Homo sapiens: one gene and its partner. The protein of the gene in region 2 binds, or shares a complex with, the protein of the main gene of each other region. Each region holds a gene or a part of one and is shown on either strand. Other genes may lie near its edges. A codon is read from its position in the direction of its gene.

The links.
Region 1: the proteins of FARSA (region 2) and FARSB are in contact, whole or in part, in a crystal structure (PDB 3L4G), measured with the Homo sapiens proteins. Residues at the interface, in NP_004452.1 of Homo sapiens: Ser221, Gly222, His223, Leu224, His225, Leu227, Leu228, Arg231, Ser232, Arg235, Leu239, Gly242, Phe243, Thr244, Glu245, Pro247, Asp249, Asn250, Phe251, Ile252, Glu253, Ser254, Phe263, Gln266, Gln267, Phe277, Phe278, Leu279, Arg280, Asp281; in NP_005678.3 of Homo sapiens: Glu26, Phe29, Gly32, Leu33, Pro68, Ala69, Asn70, Ile150, Arg152, Asp259, Thr261, Lys262, Arg305 (codon at 6,913), Lys316 (codon at 6,880), Lys317 (codon at 6,877), Val318 (codon at 6,874), Gly319 (codon at 6,871), Ile359 (codon at 6,517), His360 (codon at 6,514), Cys362 (codon at 6,508), Asp363 (codon at 6,505), Glu366 (codon at 6,496), Ala369 (codon at 6,487), Ile370 (codon at 6,484), Tyr374 (codon at 6,472), Asn375 (codon at 6,469), Ile377 (codon at 6,463), Gln378 (codon at 6,460), Met379 (codon at 6,457), Thr380 (codon at 6,454).

Annotation. Positions count from the first base shown.
Region 1 is NC_000002.12:222,617,851-222,625,124, forward strand, and holds part of FARSB (phenylalanine--tRNA ligase beta subunit), read right to left. Parts: intron 6,926-7,274; coding exon 6,864-6,925; intron 6,630-6,863; coding exon 6,422-6,629; intron 5,881-6,421; coding exon 5,800-5,880; intron 1,888-5,799; coding exon 1,795-1,887; intron 1-1,794.
Region 2 is NC_000019.10:12,930,448-12,938,193, reverse strand, and holds the start of FARSA (phenylalanine--tRNA ligase alpha subunit), read left to right. Parts: upstream 1-4,482; 5' UTR 4,483-4,497; coding exon 4,498-4,644; intron 4,645-4,897; exon of another isoform or gene 4,898-5,045; intron 5,046-5,156; exon of another isoform or gene 5,157-5,224; intron 5,225-7,444; coding exon 7,445-7,582; intron 7,583-7,647; exon of another isoform or gene 7,648-7,666; coding exon 7,667-7,746.

The DNA of each region.
Region 1 (7,274 bases), on a different chromosome or scaffold from region 2:
TCAGCCTGGGCAAGAGAGCGAAGCTCTGTCTCAAAAAATAAATAAAAATAAAATAAAGTTTTTTAAAAAAGTAATCAAGCTAGATAAGTAAAACTGGGAGAAAAAGGTACATTTCGAATAAGCAAAAATCCATTAAGATTTACTGAAAAATCATTCTATGCAAATGAATTTGAATACCTCTTATTAAAAGGAACACCATGGGCAAACTTTAAAAGCAATAGGAAACTAGACCTCAGAAAATAAAATATAACAACTCATTACTACAATCCTTCCAAAATTAGTATAAGGATTCTTCAAAGTTCTGACCCTAAGTATAGATAAAGAATTCATATACTTGATATATATTACCAATTAGTTCTTTAATTAGTCTAGCTCTAATCTACAACATTAGCAGGTGGTTCTATAGATAAACTTTAGAATTTTTAAATTTAGTTTTAAACACTTTTAGAACTTTTAGAATTCTTTTTAGAACTAACCCAGTCCCTTATTTTTGTAGAAGTAAAAACCAAAATCCAAAGAAACTATTTCAAATCAGAATTCAGATATTATTTATAATAGCATTAACCTTCTTTAAAATATAACCTTCCAGTTCTAAGATTCCCCTTGATTCTAGAAGAAGACATGATTTTCTCTAAAATCTAGGTTAAAAAACATACAGACTTGCATATGCAAGAGAAACAGCACAAGAGCTTATCAGTATAAAAGAGAACTATTTAAAGTTATTAATAAGCAAAGATGTTATAATCTTAAAATGCCCTCCCTTTATAGTTAATATCCTAGTCTATAACACAAATCACTTAATACTCAATATTAAAGCAGTATCATTCTCATTTAAATATTCCTAACCTCTAAATGAAACTGCCAATAAACTTAGACAATTACAATAAAAGACATAAGCAGCACAGTCAAGAACTGATATAATGGGCAATTTCAAAGTGAATGACTTACGAAGGAACTGGGAACAGGTTTTGATTCATTTATTACAAATGAATGGAAAAGAGATGAAACCTGGCTAGGTGCTCATGCCTGTAATCCCAGCACTTTGGGAGGCTGAGGTCACTTTGCGGATCACTTGAGATCAGGAGTTCAGAACCAGCCTCGCCAACATGGTGAAACCCCGTCTCTACTAAAAATACAAAAAATTAGCCGGGCGTAGTGGCGGGCGCCTGTAGTCCCAGCTACTTGGGAGGCTGAGGCAGGAGAATGGCGTGAACCCGGGAGGCGGAGCTTGCAGTGAGCCGAGATCCCGCCACTGCACTCCAGCCTGGGCGACAGAGCGAGACTCTGTCTCAAAAAAAAAAAAAATTTAGCCAAGCATCGTGGCATGCACCTGTAATCCCAACTACTTGGGAGGCTGAGGCAGCAGAATCGCTTGAACCCAGGAGGCAGAGGTTGCAGTGAGCCGAGATCGTGCCACTGCACTCCAGCCTGAGCAACAGGGCAAGACTCTGTCCCAAAAAATAAAAATTAAAAAAAAAAAAAAAAAATGAAATCTGAAAATAGTATTAAAAAATCAATTATGAAATGGAAAGTTCAGACAAGAGAGATTGGGCCAGATAATACAAAGCAAGTAAGAACCCAGTATGAAGTTAATCAAGAAGATATTATTTTTAAAAGTGTAAAGAATTTTTGGCAGCAAAGCACGTAATAACCAACTATAAACTTACCCAAGAAGATATTATTAAAAAGCTCTAAGATTTCACCATCTCAGGTATAATAACTGAAGAGACTTTTCCTAACTCATGTACTACCTCTAGGTTTTTACATGAATTCTCACCTACTTAAAATTCTTACCTGAAATTCAGCTGTTTTAGGATTACTTATGTGGACTGCCTTTGTTGCAGAGATATCCACACCTAGTTTATCAGCAATATCTTCTTGGGAGCACTGTGAAGTACACACAAAACAGATTAATATGGAAAAGCAATTACTTAAGTTTAAAATAAAAAGTAATGCTGTAAGTCAACTTCTAAGAGCAATTTATATTCTCTACACATATCAGCAAGTTAAGAATAGGCCTGGTGTGAGCTGAAGTAAATGTAATAATAATAATAATAAAAAACAAACAAAAAAAGAATAAGCTAACAATAAATACACATCAATCTCAGGCCCATAGCAGATGGAATTTAACATTAATACTTCTTTCACAATGAGTCCTAGCCATCATACAGAGCTAAAGTAAATTTTTCACATGGAGATGGTATAAACTGTACTCGGGCCCTTCCTAAGCTAGTTTCCCATTTACCTTTCCAATCTAATCTCCCATGATGCCCTAGCCATTCCCTAAACCTTATGTTTCCCTACCTTACCTGAAATGTCCTCCCAGCCTCACCTGCTACCATTCCCTAAGGCTGACTTAAATGACCTCTCTTCCATAATATTCCTAATGACTCTAGTCAGAAACTTTCTCTCCCTCCTTGGTATTTCATGACTTTCCATTTTGACTACCATTATAACCCTTGCTAAATCCATACTGACTTGTGGCAGAACAGTAGGACTGACAACAGAATTCAAGTGACTGGAACTCTGCCCAGTGTTCTTTACTGTATCACTTAACTTCTGTGCACATGCCTGAAACTCATAACAAATAAACTGCTGAGTACCCACCAATCGAAGAGAAAGATGCTTGCCACCCTCAGAAACCAGCATTGTAGGCAGAAGTTATGAAATTAAAAACTCACTGACGATTAGATACATCAAGTCTAATAATAAATGATATAATGAGATAATGCAAGTATGGTGCCTGGCACAGAGTAAGCACTCAAAAAATACCAACAATGATGATAACTGACAAATCATTACTAAGGATAAATTATTATCATGTATATTAATGCTAGCTTTTTGAAAAAGCATTTAAAACGTAACACAAAAACTGATGTACCATCAGATTATTGTACTATTGTCCAATGTTAGGCAATATTGTTCATTATGCTGTTCTACAACTAGTTTTCAAAGGCTAGTTGGCCTGTATTTCACTTATTAAAACAAAATGATACACATCAACTGAAATGGTAAAAAGAATTCATTTCATGTCAATGTCAGTTCTAGTGATTCTTGCCATGCTTTCTTGAGAAAGATCCTGAAGCCACATCCAGCCATAGCAGAAAACAGCTCCCGGATCTGCTACAGCTGCTGAGATGGAGAATGGTGACATGCACACTGGGGATAAGCGTTTTCCCCACAGCATAAAGAAGTTTTACAGCAAGACTTAGGTATAATGTGACTGATTAATTATGAAATGCAACTGACATGAAGCAATCTATTCTCAAATGAAACTAGTCCTCTCTGTGTAAAAGAAAAACACTCTGCAGACACATGGCAACGCAGCTGTGTATCTGAGTGAACTTGTATTTTATCATGGCAATGGATAATAAGGGATAGTGACAAGAGGCAATTTAAATTAAGCTACCCTGAAGTGGCAGTAGTTAGTACACAGTAAGAAACTTTTTTTTGTTTGAGACAGAGTCTCACCCTGTCGCCCACACTGGAGTTCAGTGGTGCAATCTCGGCTTGCTGCAACCTCCACCACACCCGACTAATTTTTGTATTTTTAGTAGAGATGGGGTTTTGCCATGTTGGCCACACTGGTCTCGAACTTGTAGCCTCAAGTGATCCGCCCGCCTCGGCCTCCCAAAGTGCTGGGATTACAGGCATGAGCCACCATGCCTGCCAGGAACTTTTTTAATGTTAATATTTATGTGTTTATTTTAATGTGTTAGAAAAATACAACAAGTAAATGAACCTTATAGTTTTTACAGATATTATTCCTATAACAAGGCTGAAGTACATAAGCCAACTTAAAAGTGAGCCAATTTAAAAGAAAATATTACAACTACTATGCAGATATAGCAAAAATCAATATGATGAAGTGTGAATTATTTACACTTAGAAAGTCAGAGACTAGGCTTAAAAAAATGGCTGTTACTCTTGTGCAAAACTGGATTTAACAACATAGACCATCTTTGCTCAGCGATGCTTAGGCTTGCCTATAAACATCTTTATAAACATCTTTAATGTTGAAATTCCTACAGGAAAATTTAGTACAAATCTGAAACCCTCTAGGAGCTCACTCCTTTCTCTTCCCCCCAGTGATAAACATTGAATGTATTAAAGTGACTTTGGACAGCTAAACAGACTGTTTCTAACATCCCTGGTGTGACAGTTCAGTCACAGGCCTTGGATGCAGACAGGCATGGGCGGGAATCCCTGATCCACAGCCATGGCGTAGGACAAGTTACTTAAATTAACTGCTGTGAAAGACAGGAATGCCCACTTCACAGGAGTATACTGAGAAGAAATGGAATCATGTACACAAAGCCCTTGGCACAGGGTAAACATTCCCTGCAGAGCAGCCACTAGTCAAGACTCGGCCTCTGTGCTCCTTCGAAGACACATGAGGCTCTAAGGTCACAAAATCAAACTGGCAATGGATATTGTAATAAGTATAAAGTATAAGTATAAAAAGGATAAAGTAATAAGTAACTTTTTTCAAACTGGCACCACTAATATAAAAGGGCAGGGAAAAATGCATACCCAAGTTTTAACAGCAGTTGTTTCTGGGGAGGAAAAGAGGATTCGAAGTGGGGAAAAGAACTGTTATGGTTTAATCTACATGGTTAAAGTATGAGTCCTTTAAAATAAGATGTATTCCTGTGACACTCATATGTTTTAAAAAATAAAAATATATTTTTCAATGTTATTTTTGGTACTTCATTTTATATGAAATCCTGGATGCTCACAACTACAAATGTGTGTATATATATGTGCAAAGATGAATGACATGGCATTACAGACCTAGTGTACACGGTATGAGACCATGGAAAAGCACTGTTCTAGGAGGCTAAAGGTCAGGACCCTGCTCATGATATAATGAGATCATGCAGGTATGGTGGCCTGGAACACAGCAGTTCTCCTGCTGTCCGTGTAAAATGTGCTACGTACTTATCCTCTCTCAGCCTCAGGCTTCCTCATTGGTGCAGTGCCTGACATATAATAAATGCTCAACAAATGTTGAATGAATGACTCCTGAATCAGAAAAATCTTAATGCTTAATATTTATTAAGCAAACTAGAAGTAGAGTCCCTTAAATACTCTAAAATATTGAGAATTTCAGAGGTAGGGCTAAGTTGCAGGGGAGAAAAAGAAGAAGCTTCCTTTCCCCTCATAGATTAAACATACTTGAATGCTCAAGAACTACATTGCAGGCACCACAGAAATGCTCAGCAAGAGGGAAAAACGGAACTACAAATTGCATACACATTTTATTCTTTCAAATGGTCAATCTGGTGGGGGAGGGAAATTTCCTTCTGATTTTGTAATAAAAGTCATTTCCTGATTTAGGCCTTTTATGTCAGCTTTTCAACTCAAAGCAAATGTTTGTGAACATGTTCAAAGACAAAGAAATTAATTTAATGTGGAACAGTCCACAAGCCTTTACCCAGGACGGCATCTAGTGGGCACAGCCATAACCAAATTAAGACCAAATATTCTAACTTAATAAATTTGGTTATGAAATACATTGTGAACTCTCAACACTCACATGAAACTATAAAATACTTTGTCATCTCTCATTTGAGGTATTTTTTTCTAGGCCTTCATTTTCTTTTGTGGCTGTAAAAACAAAAGCTTCAACATTACTTTACCAGGAATTGTATAATCTCAAGTAACAAAGTTATTCTTCCAGAATCTGGAAGTTCTAACAGTCTAGATTTTATAAATTCTTATAAAGCATCATAGAATAAATAATTCAGAGAGTCTAAGTAAATAATCATCTGGGCAGAAAAAGCATGTAAGACATACCAGGGCAAAGGTAAGTGCTTCAGTGAAGCCAGCGGCTGCCATGTCATGTCGGAGAAGTTCAGTGAGCTTATTAAGAGGAAACTGAAAAAAAAAGCATCCACTTGATTTCACCGCAATTATTTCTTGTTTTTTAAAAGGGAGATTTATACAGAACATGCCATTAAAACTTTTTTAAATAAAAATGTTTAAAAGATTAAAAACCTTTTCACCCTTACTAACGTACTGCTAATGCCACTATTTCCCTATCAATATTACCTCCTCCCTCCCCACCGCTCTGCCACCCCTCTGCTCCTACACAGATGTACAAACCACCCCCACTTCCATCTCTCCCACACACAGCTTCTGCCTTCAGGCCCAAGTTGAGAAAATGAATCTCTGAGAGATTCAACAAGGGCTCCAAACTCAAAACTTGTCTTTCTTCAAAGAACTAGTCATCACAGGTTTTCAACTTACTCTAATCATTTGGGCATCTGTTTTGTATCCTCTCCACAGCAAATGCCTCTCATTGCAGAGCATGTCCAAATACTGCTTGATTCCTACGTTCTGTTTTCTCGAAGCCTTCCTGGCATTAAATAATCAGTTTCTAACAATAAGGAGTGTTTATTTAAGGGTGCAATCTTACTTGATTAGCTATGGTGTAAGTTTTCGGGAGAGTCATCTGAATGTTGTTATATCCATAAGCAATAGCTGCATCTTCTACAATATCACATGCATGGATAATGTCAGCTCTGGTTGGAGGGATTTCAATCTCAATCTGATTCCCATCACCTATGACTTCTGATTTTAAATACATCCTGGTCAGAAGTTTGGCAAGATTTTCTGGAGTTTCTCTGAAAAAGGAATGAACAAACCATAAACTTCATTGGATTATTTTTTTAATGTTTACATTGTGTTTCAACATATGCTACTAGCTGAAACAGTAACCTTTCTTTTTGAGTTCTATCAGAAACCAGATATCTTAACTGATGTTTTATCATTCCTTAACAGACTCTGAAGGATCGCAAAAAAAAAATTAGTCATACGTGTACTTTGTTCTTGAATTAAGTGAAGTTTTCAGAGCATACCTGATTCCAACTTTTTTGTTAATTAGGTCAGCTCTCACCATCTCCTTTCGGTAAGCTAATTCCTTAAATAGAAAGAGTTTAAAAAGTAAATCATTTCCCATCAGATACAGCTTTAGAGTCTTTTCCATTAGTCATTATTGCAGTTCTATTACGTTCCCAAGAAATTGTCATTAGAGCCACACATTGAGAATAAACTTGATGTTTCAAAAACAGTATTATGAGGGATAAATTTGCTATATTAGATTCATATATGAACATTCTACTTGCTAGACAGTTTGCACTGCCTGGAAATAATATAAAATGCCAAACAATTTTCCCTTTCAGATAGTCATTCCCCATTCCCCACAGTAAAACACTGTTGTGCTACATCATTCCAAAGACGTTTATAAATCCTGCTAAAGATTTTCAGTC
Region 2 (7,746 bases):
TCCCTCTAGGTGGAGGGGCTGGGCAAGGCTTTCTTAGCCAGCTCTTATCTTGCATTTGAGAACCAGCACCCCACTGCTGCTCCCCCACCCCTGCCTGGGATGGGAGAGAGCTCACGGATTGGGGCCCTTGGGGCTTCGCTGCACCCCGGTGCTACAGTCACGCGGGCCGGTGGGAAGAATGCCAGCCCTCTCCTCCTTCTGCCCCTAGAGCCCTGGCAGCCTATCGGACTGCTGCTGTGTGACCGGGGCAAGTCACTTAAGCTCTCTGAAGTGACAGACGTTCCTGAGCAGACAGAGGGGGCGACCCTGGCCAGATGCTACCCAGCAGAAATGCTTTTAACGTTTTTAAAGCTGTCCTGGGACAAGAGGGGAGGAAGGCTTAACGATGTGACTGTGACTTCTGGAGTGGGGATAGGGTTATTACCCAGATTGCAGCCGCCCCTTTACCCTCCTCTCAACCGGTAAATGAAGGGGGTCGCTGTCTGTGGTCTCCCACAAACGGCCTGGCTTTTGCAATTAAACGGCTATAGGCAGGCGAGAGGGCAGGGGGTTCCGTTTGGGGAGGGAAAAAAGACACAGATGGTAGGGACGATAAGATGCTAGGGAGATGGGCAGGACCCACCCCCCGACCCCAGTCTAGAGTCTTCTTCAGAAGCCAGAGGCACGTGACTGGCACCAGTACCCTGCCCCCACGCTGTAGAAAGGAGGAAGGAGAGCTGGGGGTTTTCCAAACTCTGGGCAAATAAGCCCTGGACCTGGGAGCGCGGGAGTGGACTATGGAAGGAGGGAATGAGGGGGATCCAGGAAAGAGGGTGGGGAGGGGGTGCTTCCTGGCTAATGGTTGTGACTCAGAAAAGAGAGGAAGGAAAAAATGAAAAGGAAAATAAAGTGGAGTGGGGGGAATGACTTGGCAAGGGTCTCTGGTTAAAAAAAAAAAAAAGAAATGGTGGCCGGGCGCAGTGGCTCACGCCTGTAAACCCAGCACTTGGGGAGGCCGAGGCGGGCAGATCATTTTAGGTCAGTTCGAGACCAGCCTGGCCAACAAGGTGAAAACCCATCTCCACTAAAAATAAAAATAAATAAATAAATAAAAATTAGCCAGGCGTGGTGGCGGGTGCCTCTAATCCCAGTACTCGGGAGGCTGAGGTGGGAGAATCGCTTGAACCTGGGAGCCAGAGATTGCAGTGAGCCAAGATCACGCCACTCCACTCCAGCCCACCAGCCCAGGTGACAGAGCAAGACTCCATCTCGAAAAAAAGACGGGGGAGAATGAACTGGGAAGTTGGGGTTCTACCACTTCCTCTAGGTAGTATTCAGTATTGCCTAGTCTGGTCCCCCCCATGAGGATCCCGGGGACCATCCCAGGCCTCTTGCTGACCCTTCCTCCTGTTCCTGTGTCAGGCACCTGTGGGCTTGGCGCTTCCTACTTGAGGTTAGACACTGCCTGTTTTGTTCACTTCGCATCCTCCAGTGTCACCTGCAGCACCTGGCACAGAACAGGCTTAAAAAGTACTTGCTGCATGATAGAAGAGAGGAAGGAAGGACTCTTGTGGAAATTAACTAAAAACACACGGGGCACAGTGGCTCACGCCTGTAATCCCAACACTTTGGCAGGCCAAGATGGGAGGAATGCTTAAGGCCAGGAGTTCAAGACCAGCCTGGGCAACATAGCAGGAGGCCATTTTTACAAAAACATTTTTTTTAATTGCCAGGCGTGGTGGCGCCTGCCTGTGTTCCCAGCTACTCAGAAGGCTGAGGCAGGAGGATCACTTGAGACCAGGAGGTTGACGCTGCCGTGAGCTGTGTTGTTGCCACTGCACACTCTAGCCTGGGTTACAGAGCAAGACCCTGTCTCAAAAATAAATAAAAATAAGCCGGACATGGTAGTTCACACTTATAATCCTAGCACCTTGGGAACCTGAGGCAGGCAGATTGTTTGAGCCCGGCAGTTCAAAACCAGCCTGGGCAACATGGTGGAACCTCATTCTTACAAAATATATATATGTACACATATGTAATATATTATATATGACATATAATGCATAAATATATGAATAGTATGTATATTATATATAGCATATAATATATAATATACATAACACAAATTAGCCTGGCCTGCTGGTACACACCTGTAGTCCCAACTACTCGGGAGGCTGAGGTGAGAGGATTGCTTGAGCCCAGGAGGTGGAGGCTGCAGTCAGCCAAGATCATGCCACTGCACTCCAGCCTGGGCAATAGAGTGAGACCCACTCCCTAAATAAATAAATAAATAATCAACATAAAATGGGAGGAGAGAAGGGACTTTGAGAAATGTATCCTTAATACAGAACCTCATATAGGGTCAGGATTTGGGGATATGAGTAATCCCATTTTACAGACTCAAATAATAATTGTGATGTAAAAGGAATAAATGTGTTCTGCTTATAAGAGTGTTCGAACATGGGCCACACTCAATTTAGTAAGCAGTGTGAATATGTGTGGGCATTTAATTCTCACAGTAACCTGGGCTCCAATCACCTCCATGTGAGCAAGAAACTGAGGCACAGAAAGACTACACCTTCTGGTTGAATGACATAAATAACAGATCTAGGATTCTTTTTTTTTTTTTTTTTTTTTTTTGAGACAGAGCCTTGCTCTGTCACCGAGGCTGGAGTGCAGTGGTGCGATCTCTGCTCACTGCAAGCTCCACCTACCAGGCTCAAGTGATTCTCCTGCCTCAGCTTCCCGTGTAGCTGGGATTACAGGCACCCCCACTGCACCCAGCTAATTTTTGTGTTTTTAGAGGAGATGGGGTTTCGCCATCTTGGCCAAGCTGGTCTTGAACTCCTGACCTCAGGTGATTCACCCGCCTCAGCCTCCCAAAGTGCTGGGATTACTGAGCCTGGCCAGCAGATCTAGGATTCTAATCTACCTGTGCTGACGTAAGTCACCACTGCCCACATGTGATTACTGACCATTTGAAATGTGGTTGGTCCGAACTGAGATGTGTTGTAAGTGTAAAATACGCATCAGATTTTGAAGATTTAGTATGAAAAAAAGTGCAATTTTTTTTTTTTTGAGACGGAGTTTCGCCTTGTCACCCAGGCTGGAGTGCAATGACACGATCTCGGCTCACCACAACCTCTGCCTCCCAGGTTCAAGCGACTCTCCTGCCTCAGCCTCCCAAGTAGCTGAGATTACAGGCATGCGCCACCACGCCCTGCTAATTTTGTATTTTTAGTAGAGACGGGGTTTCTCCATGTTGGTCAGGCTGGTCTCAAACTCCCGACCTCAGGTGATCCACCCGCCTCGGCCTCCCAAAGTGCTGGGATTACAGAGGTGAGCCACTGTGCCCGGCCGAGTGCAAAATATTTTATTAGTCATCTTTTTTTTTGTAAGAGTCAGGGTCTGGCTGGCTGGGCGAGGTGGGTCATGCCTCTAATGCCAGCATTTTGGGAGACCGATGCAGGAGGATAACCTGAGCCTAGGAGTTTGAGACCAGCCTGGGCAACATGGCCAAAACCCATACTTAAAAAAAAAAAAAAAGCTGGGTGTGGTGGCGCGCACCTGCAGTTCCAGCTACTCAGGAGCCTAAGGTTGGAGGATCCTTAGAGCCTGGGAAGTCAAGGCTGCAGTAAGCCATAATTGCACCACTGCACTCCAGCATGGGTGACAGAGCAAGACCCTGTCTCAAAAAAGAAAGATGTTTTGCACTGTGTTTCTATAGGACAGTGCTAATCTAGGCCATGCAGTATTTGCACTGACGTTACTCTCAGCGCACAGGGGTGGGAGGATCTGGAAGGTTTATAATTTATGACTTCATTTCCACCAACTCTCTGTAGAACCTTGGGCAAGTCATACCACCCTCTGAGCCTCAGTTTTCTCACATGTGTAATGCGGTTATATCAGTATCTACATCATAAAGTTTTGGGGATAAATGAAATACTACACGTGAAGTACTCAGTTCTGGGCTAAGTACTACCACATACGAGGTAGTCCACACAGGTTAGGTGCCACCTTGACTTACTAGGTGAATTCCTTTTCCCTCTATAAAAAGGGACGGTACCTACCCAGCCTTCCTTTGAAATTTTAAAAGTAGCTGACATCGCCAAAATGACCATCTCTGGAGCCCACCACCCACCGCCTCTCCTAGGGCAAGAGAGAATACCAGAAGGGCAGAGGGTTCTGTAACCCAGAGACGGGGAAGTCCAAGGTCACACAGCCCGCTCGAAGTGAGGCTAGATAAAACTCAAAACAGGGCGGTGCTTCTGACCTTGAGATAATCAATTTTACCCCTCTGGTCAACCAGACGCCATTGATGGAGCCAGGGTGGAGGTGGGAACTGAGTCCCATGCACCTTTTGCGGCTCCGTCGCCACACTCAAGATGACGACACATTGAGCCCTGTTCTACAGTTAGACACATTCAAGATGGCGGTACACACTCCGGTTCCGGTTCCGGTGGCTCAGCTCCCCCCGCCCACCCGGGCCCGGACACGCTGAGCACACTGGAAGGAGTCATGGCGGATGGTCAGGTGGCGGAACTGCTGCTCCGGCGGCTGGAGGCGTCTGATGGCGGCCTGGACAGCGCCGAGTTGGCGGCTGAGCTGGGCATGGAGCACCAGGCGGTGGTGGGCGCCGTGAAGAGCCTTCAGGCGCTGGGCGAGGTGAGCCGGGCCCGTGATGCCGGACCGCCTTGCCCTTGCACCTACAGTCCCCTTGCCACGGGCGCTCTACGTCCAAGCCAAATTCCCTCAGGCCTAGTTTGGGGTAGCTGTATATGTGTCCACTCCGGGATGTGCGGGCGGGAAGTGGGACGAGTGAGGGCCCAGACGCACGGATGTTCCTCATGCAATAAACGTTTATTGAGGCACGGTCAGCGTGGGTAGAGGGTACGATGATGGACGAGGAAGTCGCGGTTGCTGCCCTCACGCAGGTTGCGACGTAATAGGAAGGTGCTTCAAGAACCAGAGTGATGGGGGAAAACAGGGGACCCAGCTGTGACAGCTGACCCAGCCTTGGGGGTCAGGGAGAGCGGCCTGGTGCAGGTGACGGCTGAGTCTGTTCTCTGTTGAGGAAAGTGATAGCACTTTAGAGATCAGTGGCCGGGATCTTGGGGGATGGCAGGCGGCAAGGGAGACCAGCATAGCTGTAATTGCAAAGCCTCTTAGGTCTTTACCTCATGAGGGAACTGGGAAGCGATAGCAGGAGCTAGAGCCGGTCAGATGAGTGTGCTATCCACATCACCTTTGGGAAGAATTGGCATGGACAGGACTGGAGGTGAAGGGATGAAAGAAGAAGCTGGCACTTCCCCAAGCTGGAGGGCATGATGTCTGGCTATGGGAAGGAAGCTTGGGGGAGGTGGGGAAGGCGTGGGATTCAGGACAAGGCAGGGGGCGCACAGATGAAGTCCAGCCTTCTGACTTGGGCAAGTGGACAGTGACAGAGTCACAGGCGTAGGATGCTGAGGGGCCCGTGGGCCACCCAGAAGGCTAGATCCATGGGGCCAGGATCTGGGCTGTTTATCCGTAGAGCTCATGTTCTGTGCCCCACTTTGGTCTCAGCTTGTTTGTCCAATCCATTCCATAATCCTGGCTGATGGCCATGTTATTCCCATTTTGCAGATGTGACAACTGATGGTCAGTAACATAATCAGTGTGAATAGAAGAGGCCGATGAGCCCAGATTTGAAATTAGGCACTCAGGCTGCAGAGCCCATAGTCCTCAATGCAGAGGAGAGATGGCAGCTGTGTTGTGTGGGGTGACAGTGCCTTGACCAATATGATCTGACATTTGTATACGTCACAGAGGGTTAAATAATATAAGGAGGTGAGGTTCAATCTAATGACAGTAATAGCCATAAAAATAATTATAGTAATTAGAATTTATGCCGGGTGCAGTGGTCACACCTGTAATCCCAGCACTTTGGGAGACCAAGGCGGGTGGATCACGAGGTCAGGAGTTCAAGACCAGCCTGGCCAAGATGATGAAACCCTGTCTCTACTAAAAATACAAAAAAAAATTAGCCAGGCGTGTTGGTGGGCACCCGTAATCCCAGCTACTTGGGAGGCTGAGGCAGAGAATTGTTTGAATCGGGAGGTGGAGGTTGCAGTGAGCCGAGATCGCACTCCAGCCTGGGCGACAGAGCGAGACTCCGTCTCAAAAAAAAAAAAAAAAAAAATTTATGCAGTGTTTGTCACGTGGTAGGCACTATATATTCTTTCTGAGTATTAATTTAGCTACTCCTTAAAATCATCTGAGGTAGAACCCATCACACCTTTCTCTTATGGATGAGAAGAGTCACTGAGAGGTTAAGCAACTTTCCTGAGGTCACACAGTAAGTGAAGGGCAGAGTTGGGATTAGAATGAAGTGGGAGCCAGGCCCTGTGCACTCTACTTACCCTTGTTGTCCTTGTCTTCATGACTCTGGACCTGGAACCTCAGTTTTTGTTTGTAATGTGGACCTCCAGGGCCCGTCTCTGACATTCTGGGCACTGACATGTGAACATTTAAACATGGAGACAGGCTGGGTATGGTGGCTCATGCCCATTATGCCAGCACTTTGGGAGGCTGAGGAAGGAGAATCACTTGAGGCCAGGAGTTTGAGACCAGCCTGGACAACATAACAACACCCTGTCTTTAAAAAGTAATTTAAAGGGCCGGGCACGGCGGCTCACGCCTGTAATCCTAGCACTTTGGGAGGCGGAGTCGGCCGATTACGAGGTCAGGAGTTTGAGACCAGCCTGGCCAACATGGTGAAACCCCATCTCTACTAAAAATACAAAAATTAGCTGGGGGTGGTGGTGGGCACCTGTAATCCGAGCTACTCGGGAGGCTGAGGCAGGAGAATCATTTGAACCCGGGAGGCAGAGGTTGCAGTGAACCGAGATCGCACCATTGCACTCTAGCCTGAGCGACAGTGCAAGACTCCGTCTCAAAAAAAAAAAGTAATTTAAAAATTAACCAGGTGTGGCGGCACATGCCTGTAGTCCCAGCTACTCGGGACTGGCGGAAGGATCGCTTGAGCCCAGGAGGTCTAGGCTGCAGTGAGCTATGATCACACCACTGCACCCAGCCTAGTGACAGGGTGAGACCCCCTTTCAAAGAAAACAAAAACAAACAAAAAAATGTGGAGACATATCAGTTCACCTAATTTTTCACATTAAAATCTGTCACAGGTTCAAAACCGACAGAATTTGTCTTCTGCCAGGTAACATCTTTAGTGGTGTACTTTACCCTGGGAGGTGTAAACTATCATTATTACTACCCCTGTGTTACATAAGGGAAATGGAGACACAGCAAGGGGAAGTCTTTCCCTTGAGACCACTTGGCTGTAAAGTTGTATAGCTGGGATGTGAACCTAGCTTTAAGGGCTGTGCTTTCAACCTGGGACCCAGCGCTGCAGAAAGGGGGTGCCTGGCTCTGAGCCTCACCCCTGCCTGGACACCCTCCCCACATTTCCCTCTAGGTCATCGAGGCTGAACTTCGGTCCACCAAGCACTGGGAGCTTACTGCGGAGGGCGAGGAGATTGCCCGGGAGGGCAGCCATGAGGCCCGTGTGTTTCGAAGCATTCCCCCAGAGGGCCTGGCCCAGAGCGAGCTTATGGTAGGAGCTGCGGGGTGAATGGGGAGTGAGTGATGGGATGAAGGTGGCCCTCGTGCCCCACTCACTGCAGCCTCTCTTTTCCAGCGACTGCCCAGTGGCAAAGTGGGCTTCAGCAAGGCCATGTCCAACAAGTGGATTCGGGTGGACAAGAGTGCGGCTGACGG